3 separate regions of the Homo sapiens genome follow, and all the other regions are linked to region 2. Evidence: fine-mapped expression QTL. A gene starts in region 2. Each other region holds a variant in brackets. All regions are shown on one strand. Distances are between the middles of the regions.

Region 1 (4,245 bases), 240 kb before region 2:
ATATTCCATATATTTATATAACTTATATATTTTTATATATGGAATATAGATGTAAGCAGAATAAAAGGCAGAAATAGAACTATACACATACATGGCCAATTGATTTTCGACAAAGATACCAAGGTATTTCAATGTGAAAGGAATAATCTTTTTCAACAAATGATACTGGAAGAACTGGTTATTCAGAAGTTCTATAGTTTGGATATGGGTTGTTTGTCCCCAGCAAATCTCATGTTGAAATTTGATCCCCAAGGTTGGAGGTGGCCTAATGGGAAGTACTTGAGTCATGGGGCAGATCCCTCATGAATAGATTAGTGCTCTTCCTTGGGGGTAAGTGAGTTCTCACTCTATTAATTCCTAAGAAAGCTGGTTCTTAAAGAGAGCCTGGTACCTTATCCCTCTCTCTCTTTCCTCCTCTCTTTCTATGTGATCTCCGCAACACCAGCTCCCTTTCACCTTCCGCCATGAATGGAAGTAGCCTGAGGTCCACACCAGATGCAGATGTTGGTGCCATGTTTCTTGTACAGCCTGTAGAACCATAAGCAAAATAAACCTCTTTTCTTTATAAATTTCCCAGTCTCAGGTATTTCTTCACAGGAACACAAAACAGATTAAGACAAGAGGGAAAAAAAATGAAGCTTAATCCTTAATCTTCATTTCACAAAACTTAACTTGAAATGGGTCACAGAACTAAATGTAAATGTTAAAAGTTATAAAAATTTGTGACCTTGACATAGGTAAAGATTTCTTAGATAGAACATAAAAAGCATGTGCTATAAAAGAAATAAATGAATACATAGGACTTTATCAAAATGAGAACTCTTGCTCTGAAAAATACAACCATGAAAATGAAAGGTGAGTCACAGAGAAAATATTTGTCGTACATGTATATACTGATAAAGAGCTTATATACAAAACTCTTACAATTCACAAAGACAAAGAAACCAGTTCTTAAAACTGAGCAAAAAGCCAGGCATGGCAGCACATGCCTGTAGTCCCAGCTGCTCAGCAGGCTGAGGTTGGGGGATTGCTTAAGGCTAGGAGTCTGAGGCTGTAGTGCACTATCCTCACACCTGTGAATAACTACTGCACTCCAGCCTGGGCAATATAGTAAGACTCCAGCTTTAAGAAAAAAAAAAACCTGAGCAAAAGATCTGAAAGGACACTTTACAAAAGAAAATATATGAATAGCAAAAAAAGAAAACAAAAAAAGTCCATTATCTTAAGTCATCATGGAAATGCAAATTTAAATCACAATAAGATACCACTGCCCATCCATTAGAGTGGCTAATATTAAAAAGACTGATAACATCAAATGTTGGGGAGAACGTGAATCTACTAGGACTCATGGATTGCTGATGAGAATGCAAATGGTATGGGAATTTTGGAAAATAGTTTAACAATTTCTTATAAAGTTAAACATATAGTTCAACCCAGCAATTCCACTCCTAGGTTTATCCAAAGGAAATGGAAACACATATCCACGTAAGAATTTAAATCTGAGTATTTATAGCAACTTTATTTATAATAGCCCCAAACTGAATCCAACCCAAATGTCTATCAATAGGTGAATGGACAAACAAATTTGTTTCTTTTTATTAAGCAGTATGCCATTGTGTGGATGTAGCATATATATATATATATATATTTTTTTTTTTTTTCATTCACAAGCCAAAGAACATTTTGGTTATTTCCAATTTGGGCCTACTATAAATAAAGGTGCTATAAATATTCATGCAGAAATCTTTGTATGAATATAAGTTTTCATTTATTTTGGGTAATCACATAGGACTGGGATTGCTGGGTTAATGGTATATTTAGCTTTATAAGAAACTGCCAAACTGTTTTCCAAAATGGTTGTA[T/C]TATTTGGATCTCCATTAGCAATGTATGGGAGTTCTAGTTGCTCTGTATTTTAGCCAGCATTTTATATTTTCATTTTTTTGTTTTGTTTTTTTTAATTTTAGGTGTTGTTATGAACTCAATTGTGTCCTCCTCAAAATACATATGCTGAAATCTTAACCCTCAATGTGACTGTATTTAGAGATAGGGCCTTTCAGGAGGTAATTTAGGTTAAATGACATCACATGGGTGGGGCTGTAATCCAACAGAACTGGCATCTTTATAAGAGGAAGAAACACCAGGAATTCACGTGCACAGAGGAAAGGCCACGTGAGGCCACAGCAAGAAGGCACCACCTGTAAGCCAGGAAAAGAGGCCTCCCTAGAAACCAACATACTGGTTCTTAATTTTGGACTTCCAGCCTCCAGAAATGTGAGAAAATAAATTCCTGTTGCAGTCCATTCTGTGATATTCTGTTGTGATAGCCAAGCAGACTAGTACAGATTGTATAGTGTTATCTCACTGTGGTTTTCATTTGTACTTCTCTAGTGATTAATGATATTGAATATCTTTTCATGTGCTTATTTGCATCTTTAGCTCTTTTTATGAAGTATGTGTCTGCACAAAATTCATAACTCTGTGCACCAAAACCAATTCTAAGTACACTTTGCTCCACAGATTTCTTAATTCATTAGGATCATTGTCTTTACCATGATTCTGTGACTCACCAGCGTCTGTGTTTGGATGAATAATTTTTGCAAAAATTATGTTTCAGTGCTGAAAGCTTTCTTTTTCCCACAATGGACAGTTATACAAACTTTAATATAGTGATTACCTTTTATACATTTGATAAAAGTAACTTGTTTTAATTTATGAAAGAAAAATTTAATAAGCTATAAAAATCTCTGTGAAAGCAATAAGACAAATGTATAAAAATGATTTTATTTAGCTGAGTGTGGTGGCACGTGCCTGTAATCCCAGCTACTCAAGAGACCAAGGGAGGAGAATCGCTTGAACCCTGGAGGCAGAGGTTTCAGTGAGTCAAGATTGTGCCACTGTACTCCAGCCTGGGCAACAGAGCGAGACTCCATCTCAAAAAAAAAAAAATGATTTTATATCTTCTTTTTCCTAGGTGTTGACTTACTGGAACAGGAGCAAAATCTGCATTAGATGAGAGACTCTAAACTTCTCCATAAGTTGGAGTTCAATAATAATGTTTTTTAAGGTCATTGGAGACTTCTGTGAGCATCCATCCACCACAAATAACTCCACATCTGGGTTATCTGCTTTTGTTTATTTATTTATTTATTTGTGAGACAGAGTCTCACTCTGTCGCCCAGGTGGAGTATAGTGGTGTGATCTCAGCTCACTTCAACCTCCGCCTCCTGGGTTCAAGCAATTCTTGTGCCTCAGCCTCCCGAGTAGGTGGGACTACAGGTGTGTGCCACCATGACCAGCTAATTTTTGTATTTTCAGTAGAGACAGAGTTTCCCCATATTGGCCAGGCTGGTCTCGAACTCCTGGCCTCAAGTGATCTGCCTGTCTCGGCCTCCCAAAGTGCTGGGATTACAGGCATGAACCAGTTCACCTGGCCTATTGTCTGTTTTTAGATGGCCTATTTGAATTATGTCTGAACATGATACACCTGTAGCCTCATCAAATTTGTTTTTGTTTTGTTTTGTTTTTGAGACAGGGTCTCACGTTGCTCAGTCTGGAGTGCAGTGGCACCATCGCAGCTCACTTCCAGCCTTGACCTCCCTGGGCTCAGGTGATCCTACCACCTCAGCCACCCAAGTAGGACTACAGGCACACACTACCATGGCCAGCTAATTTTTGCAATCTTTTTGTAGAGATGGGGTCTTGCTATGTTGCCCAGGCTAAATTTGTTTCTCCAAATGTAGATATTAGAAAATGTGGGATTCGTTTTCATTGATTGTGAAAGTGCAAGTCCTTCTCTATGTTGTTGCTGACTACTGACAATGCTTTAAAATGCCCATTGTGTAAAGTAAGAATTTCTTGGAGATACTTAGCTCCTGCATTTTCTATTCTGTTAAAAGAAAAATCTACTGCTTCTAGGGTAATATTGCTTTTACATGAGCTAGATACATAATTCCATCCTGAGATATTTGATTGCAGCTGACATCAAGGTAGCATAGGCTACTGTTAAGATACATTGAATAACATATAATTGTTGTATACTACAGTTTTTTATATTATGCTTACACATGTGTAGTTGAACAAGGCAGTTATTTTCTTTCAACATATGGCCTACGTGGGCTGTGGACTCTTTCTGTTTGCCATACTGCATAGGTCAGTTTAGGTTTATTCCCTTAATTGCTTTGTTTTGAGTTAGTATCGTAGCAAATGCTATCACACTTTGCATTCCCAGATCACAGTAACCCAGAC
Region 2 (4,245 bases):
AGCCCACCAAGGTAAGAGAATTCTTAGTTTGCAGAAGAAAGAAAAACAGCACATTGTGTCACACAGATCTTTTGATGTAAAGCATGACTTTAATGCATTCTTATGATATTATATAGGGAAACATTTACATAGCCCCTTCATAACTGTAATATGCCCTAGTTTTGTTTGTCAGTTTATTTCTTTGTTATTTACTCTACAAATAGTCCTTGAACTTGAGGAAGAAAAATGGGAATGGTTTGTGTTTTACTTAAATTATAAGATCAAAGATGGCAGATGATTTATCCAAAGCCCAGGCAAGTAGGAAAAGCTCCCCCTTCCCTTCCCCTTTTCCAGGATAGAAGAGAGTTGGCTGGTTACTTTGCAGGACTTAAGATGATCTTCATTTTAAAGAATCTGTATCAGCCTCCACTGTGGTAAGATGTGACTGGGATTTCAAGGTTTCCCCTGTCTCTACTGATTTACCTAAGTAGGACAGAGATTTCTGGGGCATGCCTGCCGGTGGAGGGCAGTAGGTCACTCAACTAAGAGCACAGTATTGTTGAGAAAATGACACTAAAGTGGTCATCTGGGATGCTACTTCGCTTTTGGTAAATAACTTTGCATCAACTTCTCAAGTTCCACCTCTCAGTGGAGACGGATGCTAGACAAAGGTACCAGACACCGCAGCCTGGTCGGCTGAACAAATGGAGTTATAGCCTTAGATTTTGTTTTCGTGATGACTAAGCTGACCAGGTTTCTTCTTTGTCCTTGCACACTTTATGCTTGACGAGATGCTTAAGCAAATAGAATAGGCGACCGCTAGGAGGTACCCGAGCTATGCGTCGGCCGCCGGGGCGAGCAGAAATGGCTAACAGCGACTCTCTCGGCTCGGTGGGTCAAGGCGGGTGGTGCTTTTCCAAGGTCGGGGTTGCGATAAGCTTATCGCTTATCACAAGCAAGAAGGGCAAGAAGGACGTCTAAGAACCAACGGTCCTTTAATCTAAAAGGCCGCGCGCCTCCAAGGCAATGTGACATCTTGAGGTCTAGTGTTTGGGCACCAGCTGCCTGCACATCTGGATGCAGCACTTCCTTTCAGGGAGGAGGCGAGGCGGAGGACCCCGGAGTGCACGCACCTCCTCGTGCGCGCGCTCGCTTGCGCCCGTGAACGTGTGTGTGTGTGTGTGTGTGTGTGTGTGTGTGTGTGTGTGTGCGGGCGCGCGCGCACACACACGGGCCGCGGCTCCGGGACCGGCTAATGGGGGTGGGGGCCCAGGAAGGAATAAATCTCCGCCAGCCTCCTCGCGCCTGGCTGCGGGTTAATATCCAACCAGCTAGAGAAAGACTAGGGTGACGGCAGCAGGGTGACAGCCTGGGCACACCGGCCGCTTGTCGAAGGATCAGGATATTAGCCAGTCTCCGCCACACTCAGGGACTGATATATTTCTATTGGCGGGGGGCTGTTGGTTTTTATTGTCTGCCGTTATCTCCAAAGAACAAGGGCACGAGTGAGGGGTGCGCGCTCTGGGCGAGTGTCGCGGCTCGGATCGGGTCGAAGGAGGCAATTTTGCGGGTGGGGGAGGGAGGGGGAGACCTTGATTTCCACCAATCCCCGGGCGTTTGTCTGCGAAGTCCGGGGCGCAGCGGAAGGCTGCGGCGCGCCGCTGAATTAACTGATGAGAGCGAGTTCTTTTCTTCTCCGGGAGGGGTGGGGAGCGAGGGTCCCGGCGGGCGAGGCGGAGGAGCCCGGGGCAGGATAGCGGTCCCGGGCCGCCGTGGAAATTTCCAAGGACTTGGTGCGGCGCAGAGAGCGCGTCTCGGGGCGGGGTGGGGGGGGGGGGGTTGCCTGGCGGCGCAGCAGCGCGGGAGGCGGCGAAGGGCGCAGGAGCATCGCTCGGAGGGGACAAGGGGACGCCACGGGCCACATGTTTAGGAGGGAGCCGAGCCTTCTCCCGGACCCTCGCCGAGGGCGACCGTGATGCTGCAGAACCGGCGGGAGCGACTCGCCGCCGCCGCTCTCTGCGCACTCGGAGACCCCAGCGCCCGCCTTCTGCAGGGGAAGCGACCATGGCCATAGATCGTGACTTCACCCCCAGCCACTTCCCCTAGAAAGAAATCCTTGGAAAAGTTGCATTTGAAAAAATCCTTGCGCTGACCTTTGGGGCCGACGGGGCCGAAGAAGCGTGCGTGCGTTTGCAAGTAAGAGAACCAAAGGTGTGTGTGCATGGGGGGCTGGCGGTGGGGGACCCTCCGCTGCCACTTCGCCTAGCTTTGTGCTGAGGCCCCGGCCCCCGCCCCTGGGACGCCGGGGCTGCGATGAGCCCCTGCGGGCGGGCCCGGCGACAAACGTCCAGAGGGGCCATGGCTGTACTGGCGTGGAAGTTCCCGCGGACCCGGCTGCCCATGGGAGCCAGTGCCCTCTGTGTCGTGGTCCTCTGTTGGCTCTACATCTTCCCCGTCTACCGGCTGCCCAACGAGAAAGAGATCGTGCAGGGGGTGCTGCAACAGGGCACGGCGTGGAGGAGGAACCAGACCGCGGCCAGAGCGTTCAGGTACTCCTGCCCTCGCGGCTCCTCCCCTCTAGCGTCCTTTCCTCCCCGAGTGCAGAGGACAGGGTCACCGGCGAGGACCGCCTTGCACCGTCTCGCAGAGGCATCCCTTTCATCCGCTCTTCCATGTCCTTTCCCTCCATTTGTGCCATTCCCAACCTGGAGACTTTAGTCAGGGTTCCTTCCCCACCCCTGATCCCCAGAGATGTGCAGACACCTGCTTTGCGCATGTAAAGACTCGACGCATTTCTTCCCAAAGCGGAGTTTTATTTAACAATTTACGGATAAACAAAACAGAGGGAAGGAGAACCCAGGATAACTTAGTCTCTTGCACTTAATAAGAATTTACCTCTTGGGCTCTGCAGACATTTGAAGCTGTAGGGAACAAGAAGCAGGTAAAAGGCATCTCCCCGAGGTGGAGTGCACAGTCGGTAACATAAGTCCCCAACGTCGGAGTGATGGGCAGTGGAAACATGGACGGATCCCGCAGCTTTGCGCAGTGTGCCCACAGCAAGTGCATAGTACTGACTGACGTCTACTAAGAGACGATACTGTGCAATTTTTGTGTTGAAATCTCGAACAGCTGTCTAGTATTATTATCTCATCTTGTTGACCACAAATTGATTCTTTAGAAGGATGAGTAACTTCCCCAAGGTCATTACTTTTGACCTGTGGGTGCTGGATTTTTCATCACTTAAAGCTCCAAAGCTCCCAGCTCTTTTTATTGGCTTAGGCTGTGGATGCCTCTGGAAGATGGGAGATGTACTTTAAGTAGGCACCTGAAGTCAGAAAACAAACAAAATGCCCAAGCCAGGTTGGAAATCAGAACTCTGAGGATCACTCAGAGGTTGTAGATCCGCTTCCTTTCTGGGAATTTTAGATTAAATGTCTAAAAATAAGTTACGGCAGCAGGGGTTGTGTAGTTAGATTGGAGGGAAGGCAGAGCTGCTTCCCCTTCCTCTCCACCTCCCCAGGCATGTTGAGGGAACACACGGGTGCTTCCACCACTGCGAGGTGCCCCTTTCACCTTTAGTCTCTGGGGCTGAAGATGCTGCTGTTGGCTTCTTCCTGTGATTGTAGTGGTCTGGGTGGTTGGAAATGATCTCCTCTGCTCTGTAGAGGATCTTTCTAATCAGTGCAAGGGCAGGTGAGTTCTAATGTAAACATTTTTCACTGCAGTTATTTACAAATATTCAGGAGCATCTATACATTTTTAAAAACTTTTTAAACATATGGTTTCCATCTCCTTCTCAGGCCTCCTCCTGGAAAGAGGATTAAAAAGATAACAGAGCCAATTTGTTTAGAGGAAGGCAACTGCATTCTCCTTGGAAGGGAGGACTTTCCTTCTCCCTTTTTAGAACTCTACCATCATTGAATTTAAAAATAACCTCACTCTTCCTAAAAGTATCTAAGGGTTAATTTTTTCTTTCCTTCACAGTATTGATTGTGGGACTCAAGAGCAGGCAAAAGGCATCACATCCAGCAATTATTTTCCCTAAAGACAGAAAGCACTTTCATTTCAAGTGATCTAAGGAAATGAGTTAAGAACTTCCCATTGGTTTGCAATGAAAGAGTCCATTTTTTTAATATAGGAGGAGGAATAATGAAGCCCTCTTAGAGGATAGATTTCTTGTTGGAGGATACAGTCAAGTGGAAAATGCTTCAAATTCTGAGACACACAGGCTGATAGTTTCTGAGACACATTTGTTCCTTGCTTTCT
Region 3 (4,245 bases), 83 kb after region 2:
GAATAGGTGAGAAGAGCAGGGAGTCCTGAACCACCTTCAGGCACCCTCTCCAGTACTTTGGCATTAGGTGAGGCTGAAGAGCCAGCAAAGAACACAGCGAGATAGGAGACAAGTCCTTGCTGTTGTTGACTAGGTCTGTGACCTACAGTGCATTATTTTACCCTTGCTGGGGCCCAGCTTTCTAATTTGTAGGAGGAAGCGGGAGTAGGCAATTCCTCAGGCCCTTCCCATTGTGGCAACTCTTACTCTATCTATGACTGTATGAATACCGTATCATTGTAACACCGTTTATGTAGTTTAGTTTAAATTTTCAAATTGCTCTTGAGTATTATTAGTTTTTGTGCTCTTCCCAAAAATTATGTAAGGAAGAAGGAATACGTAGTATTCAACTCACAGATTCAAAGAAGTGATTTCAAGTGGCCTTGATACACGTAGAAATGTAAATACACTTCGTGCAGTACAATAAGTGTATTTTTGTATTCATGAGTGTGTATGTGTGTGTGTCATCCATTTGTGAAGATGGACGTTTACTAATGTGTAGAAGACTAGGCTTAGGCACCATAGAATGTTATCTATTGTTTCCAGTGGGCCATATTTATCACAAGTAAACAAGACTTTTTTAGCCTTATATGCAATCTGGTGTTGATATAGTCAAGTTCAGAATTAATGAACGCTTCTGATTAGAGTGCCTGGCACAGTATTAAGCATAATGTTTCTAAAATATGGGGAGATGAGGGTTGAAAGAACTCAAAGAAGGTAGCACCATAACTAGAACTATGTATGCGTATGCCTTTGATTTAATTTCAAGAATAGTTCTGTTTTATGACACATTTTAATGTTTAAAAGCCTTATGTATGTTTTAAATTATAGGAGTAATAAAAGTTGATAAATTATTTCAAAATTATTTGACCATTTGCAGATCTATTAATAAATCATTGCTTAATATGCATTTTGGGGCATGCTTAATGTATCGAGATATTATATATTCAAAATTAAACATTTAATGAATAAACGTAGATTAGAAAGCATGTCGTATGTCTGGTCCTAGACTGTAGGGTGTGTAATGGACAGATACAGTGAGAGAGAACATCCAAAAATAGCACTGCCTGTACACAGTGATATACCAGATTACAGTTCAAAGTGTCTTCTAGGACTAGGATATAATAATTTCATAATTTTCTTTGCTTAAATGTTTTCAAACACATCTTCTAGTGCTGAAAATCAATTTCCCATTTCTCAAAGTAAACATTTGCTCTGTAGCCAAAAGCAGTACTTTAAAAAATAATATCATTGAATTCAATTTATTGGGAAGATTTGCCAGACAAAAGTTAACAGGGATTGCATCCTCAAAAGGAACTGGTTGGCTTGGGGACATGAATGAGGGAACATAATTTTGGTGCCTTTTGAATTATGCTCAAATGTATGTTTTGCCTGCTCACATATACAAAAAAATTAAAGTAATTTCATGATTTTTCTGCTTTAAGATTTCTTTCTCTCAAGCCCATTTCCCACTTACTTCCACATCCCAATTCAAAGAATATTCACTTCTCATTAATTCTCTGATCAGATCTCTTTTAGGATCATGAGCACAGTTGCTAAGACACTTTAGTCATTAATATTTGTTAATTGTGCCAACAGC[G/A]ATAATGCAAACTTTGAAACATTTTACACCACAATTATGCCTTATTAAAACAATTTGACTGTATTAAATGTGCCTTTTGTGTACATCTTTGTAATTATCAATTTATGAGTTGAGGAACTAAAATTATTGGTGTGCTTTTCCTGAGAGAAGAGATACAGGAAAGTGTCACAGATATTTGCACTTAGAGAAAAAGTTTACCCAGAAGAACTTACACCAAAATGTATTGTCATTATTTTCTGGAAATACATCAAAATTCATATAAAATGTTATCTTCATGGTTTTAAGCATTCACCTCTGTTCTAGAAGATAATAAATACCTGCAAGTTTTTATTGGGCTATTACTCTGTGGCAGTAAATATGAAAAGACCCAGACACATGAGCCATGGAACACACAGGAAAACAAAGTATTTACTCATGAAAACCAGTTTGTTTAATAATGACAAAACATGTTGACAGTACTCTCCAGCAATACTCAGAATTTACAGTTTTAGCGTAACATAGCTGATTCTCACCTGCTTCCAAGGGCAATTAAGATCAAAGCTTCTTTAAGAGATAAGTATCCAAATTTTAGTCTGTGTTTTATCCTGGAAGTCATCTTCCTCTTTGCAAAGATCAATTAAATCACAAGACCACAATCAGTTACCACAGCCGGATGAGCCTGGCTGTTAATGCATAAACTCACTCCCTCATGAGAATCCTCAGGAAACCACATGGGATATGGGGCAACCACTTGACTGTGGATACTTCAAGAGTAGGTTCTCTGACTTGGGCTCCACCCCCAAGGCCCCCATAATGCCCACTGTGTTTGCTTTCAGTGGGCATTCAGCAAAAGCCACTGACTGGTTAACTGACCTGTTGGTAGCTACCAGAAAAACCAGTATCTTATCACCGAAGAGCAGATAAAAAGAAGATTCTAAATCAACTGAGACAAGTTTCTGCCTAGGATGCCTTGATGTGTTGATACTCACAGGGTAAATAAGAGACAAAATCAGAGAACTTGAGCTGATCAGCTGAGTGGGTGCCTGGATACTGAGGGTAATTTGTAGGGAAAATTTAGTAGTTGGGGAACTAGCAGAGACTGCAATATTTGTAAGATATCTTTACCTACAAGTAAATGATGCTTTGGTTTACTGAAGTAATAAAAAGTTACAGATGCCCTAATGTGGTAGGAATCAAGTTAGACATATGGTTGAAGAGGAGAAATGAGGACTCAGTAATAAAAGAAAGCATAATGGAAACTATAGGCGCATTTGGCATTTTCATAGATAATAAATACATATTTAATTATTTTTGTATGCTATTTCTGACCTGTGATATTTTTGAATATTTACTAAGTGTACACATCAAGGTTGGGGAATTTTTATATTACATACCTTTTTTAGTCCTTAACAACAATTCAAGAAAAGAGGAAAAATCATTATCCTCATTTTGTATAATGGAGAAACTGAAGTCAGGCAAATGAATTAACTTGCCTAATGTTCCACAGGCAGAAAGCCATGGGATTTGAATTCGCAGTGGTCATATTTCCCATTGTAAGCATTCATAAGACATGGTGGCCAAGGAGAGCAACTGGGGCAGGGTGGGGTTTTGGGAGTGGGAGTGGGGTGGCTGTTCCCATCACCAGGGAAACATCACCTGTACTCTTTCCTTTGGCTGAACTGGGATGGTGGATCACTGCATTTCTTTGGATGATGAGCCATTATACCTTCACCAGTAATCAGCCTACCCATTGGCCACACACACACAAGTCAGACATGCTGTGATTTAAGTGAATAGTACATGGCCCTGAATGCACTCTTATAATTTTGATTTTGGAAAAAGAAAAACACAAGAAAATATATTAATTCCTCCTTGTCTTTTGAGATTTATGGGTGTGCAGAGGTACTGTAGGTCCCATGTCCTCTAGTGTATCACACTGTCCTGAGCTTTAATTCAGGTCTAAGAATGTCTGTCCTACCCTCTCAAAAATATTTTGAATGGAATAAATACCTCCTAGTTACTGTCTCTTTCTTTTTGTAGATAATTTGCCCCTTTGGCTGACATTATCTTTCTTACTAAACAGGAGTAGTTTTTATGACAGCATTTGGAAGATGCTGATAGTTAATTATTCATCCAATGTCTATTAAAAGGGAGAGGTGGTAAAAAACAAAACAAAACAAAACAAAACAAAAAACAGTTACTGGCTGGGTGCAGTGGCTCACGCCTGTAATCCCAGTACTTTGGGAGGCCAAGGCGGGCAGATCACAAGGTCAGGAGATCGAGACCGTCCTGGATAACACGGTGAAACTCCGTCTCTACTAAAAATACAAAAAAAATTAGCCGGGTGTGGTGGCAGGTGCCTGTAGTCCCAGCTACTCGGGAGGCTGAGGCAGGAGAATGGCGTGAACCCGGCAGGTGGAGCTTGCAGTGAGCGGAGATCACACCACTGTACTCCAGCCTGGGCAACAGAGCGAGACTCCATCTCAAAAAAAAAAAAAAAACAAAAAACAAAACAGTTACTCGTGAATTCAGCTAGAATTAATAACATTTCTATTTGTATTATTCTAACTGATGATTTAAAACTATGCAAATTGTTCCAAAATGTTTGTTCTTGTTTCTCTAGATGC

What was found. PIP is the estimated chance that this variant, and not a neighbour inherited with it, causes the effect.
Region 1: its variant is the best candidate, but not a certain one, in a credible set for the expression of ST8SIA1 in sun-exposed skin (GTEx, PIP 0.60).
Region 3: its variant is the best candidate, but not a certain one, in a credible set for the expression of ST8SIA1 in blood mononuclear cells (TOPMed, PIP 0.61).

The regions. Positions count from the first base shown.
Region 1 is chr12:22,574,579-22,578,823 of GRCh38, reverse strand. It overlaps C2CD5-AS1 (C2CD5 antisense RNA 1), which reads right to left and starts at 547. Exons shown (of 3, transcript XR_001749044.2): 1 at 392-547. It also overlaps the pseudogene LRRC34P1. The variant T/C (reference allele first, on the strand shown) is at 1,863.
Region 2 is chr12:22,332,280-22,336,524 of GRCh38, reverse strand. It overlaps ST8SIA1 (ST8 alpha-N-acetyl-neuraminide alpha-2,8-sialyltransferase 1), which reads left to right and starts at 1,818. Exons shown (of 5, transcript NM_003034.4): 1 at 1,818-2,528. The coding sequence starts at 2,293. It overlaps LOC105369151 (a long non-coding RNA gene), which reads left to right and starts at 2,535. Exons shown (of 2, transcript XR_931426.3): 1 at 2,535-3,672.
Region 3 is chr12:22,249,095-22,253,339 of GRCh38, reverse strand. ST8SIA1 (ST8 alpha-N-acetyl-neuraminide alpha-2,8-sialyltransferase 1) reads left to right here. Exons shown (of 5, transcript NM_003034.4): 4 at 4,242-4,245. Among named protein-coding and RNA genes, the nearest start is that of ST8SIA1, 83 kb to the left of the region's middle. The variant G/A (reference allele first, on the strand shown) is at 1,640.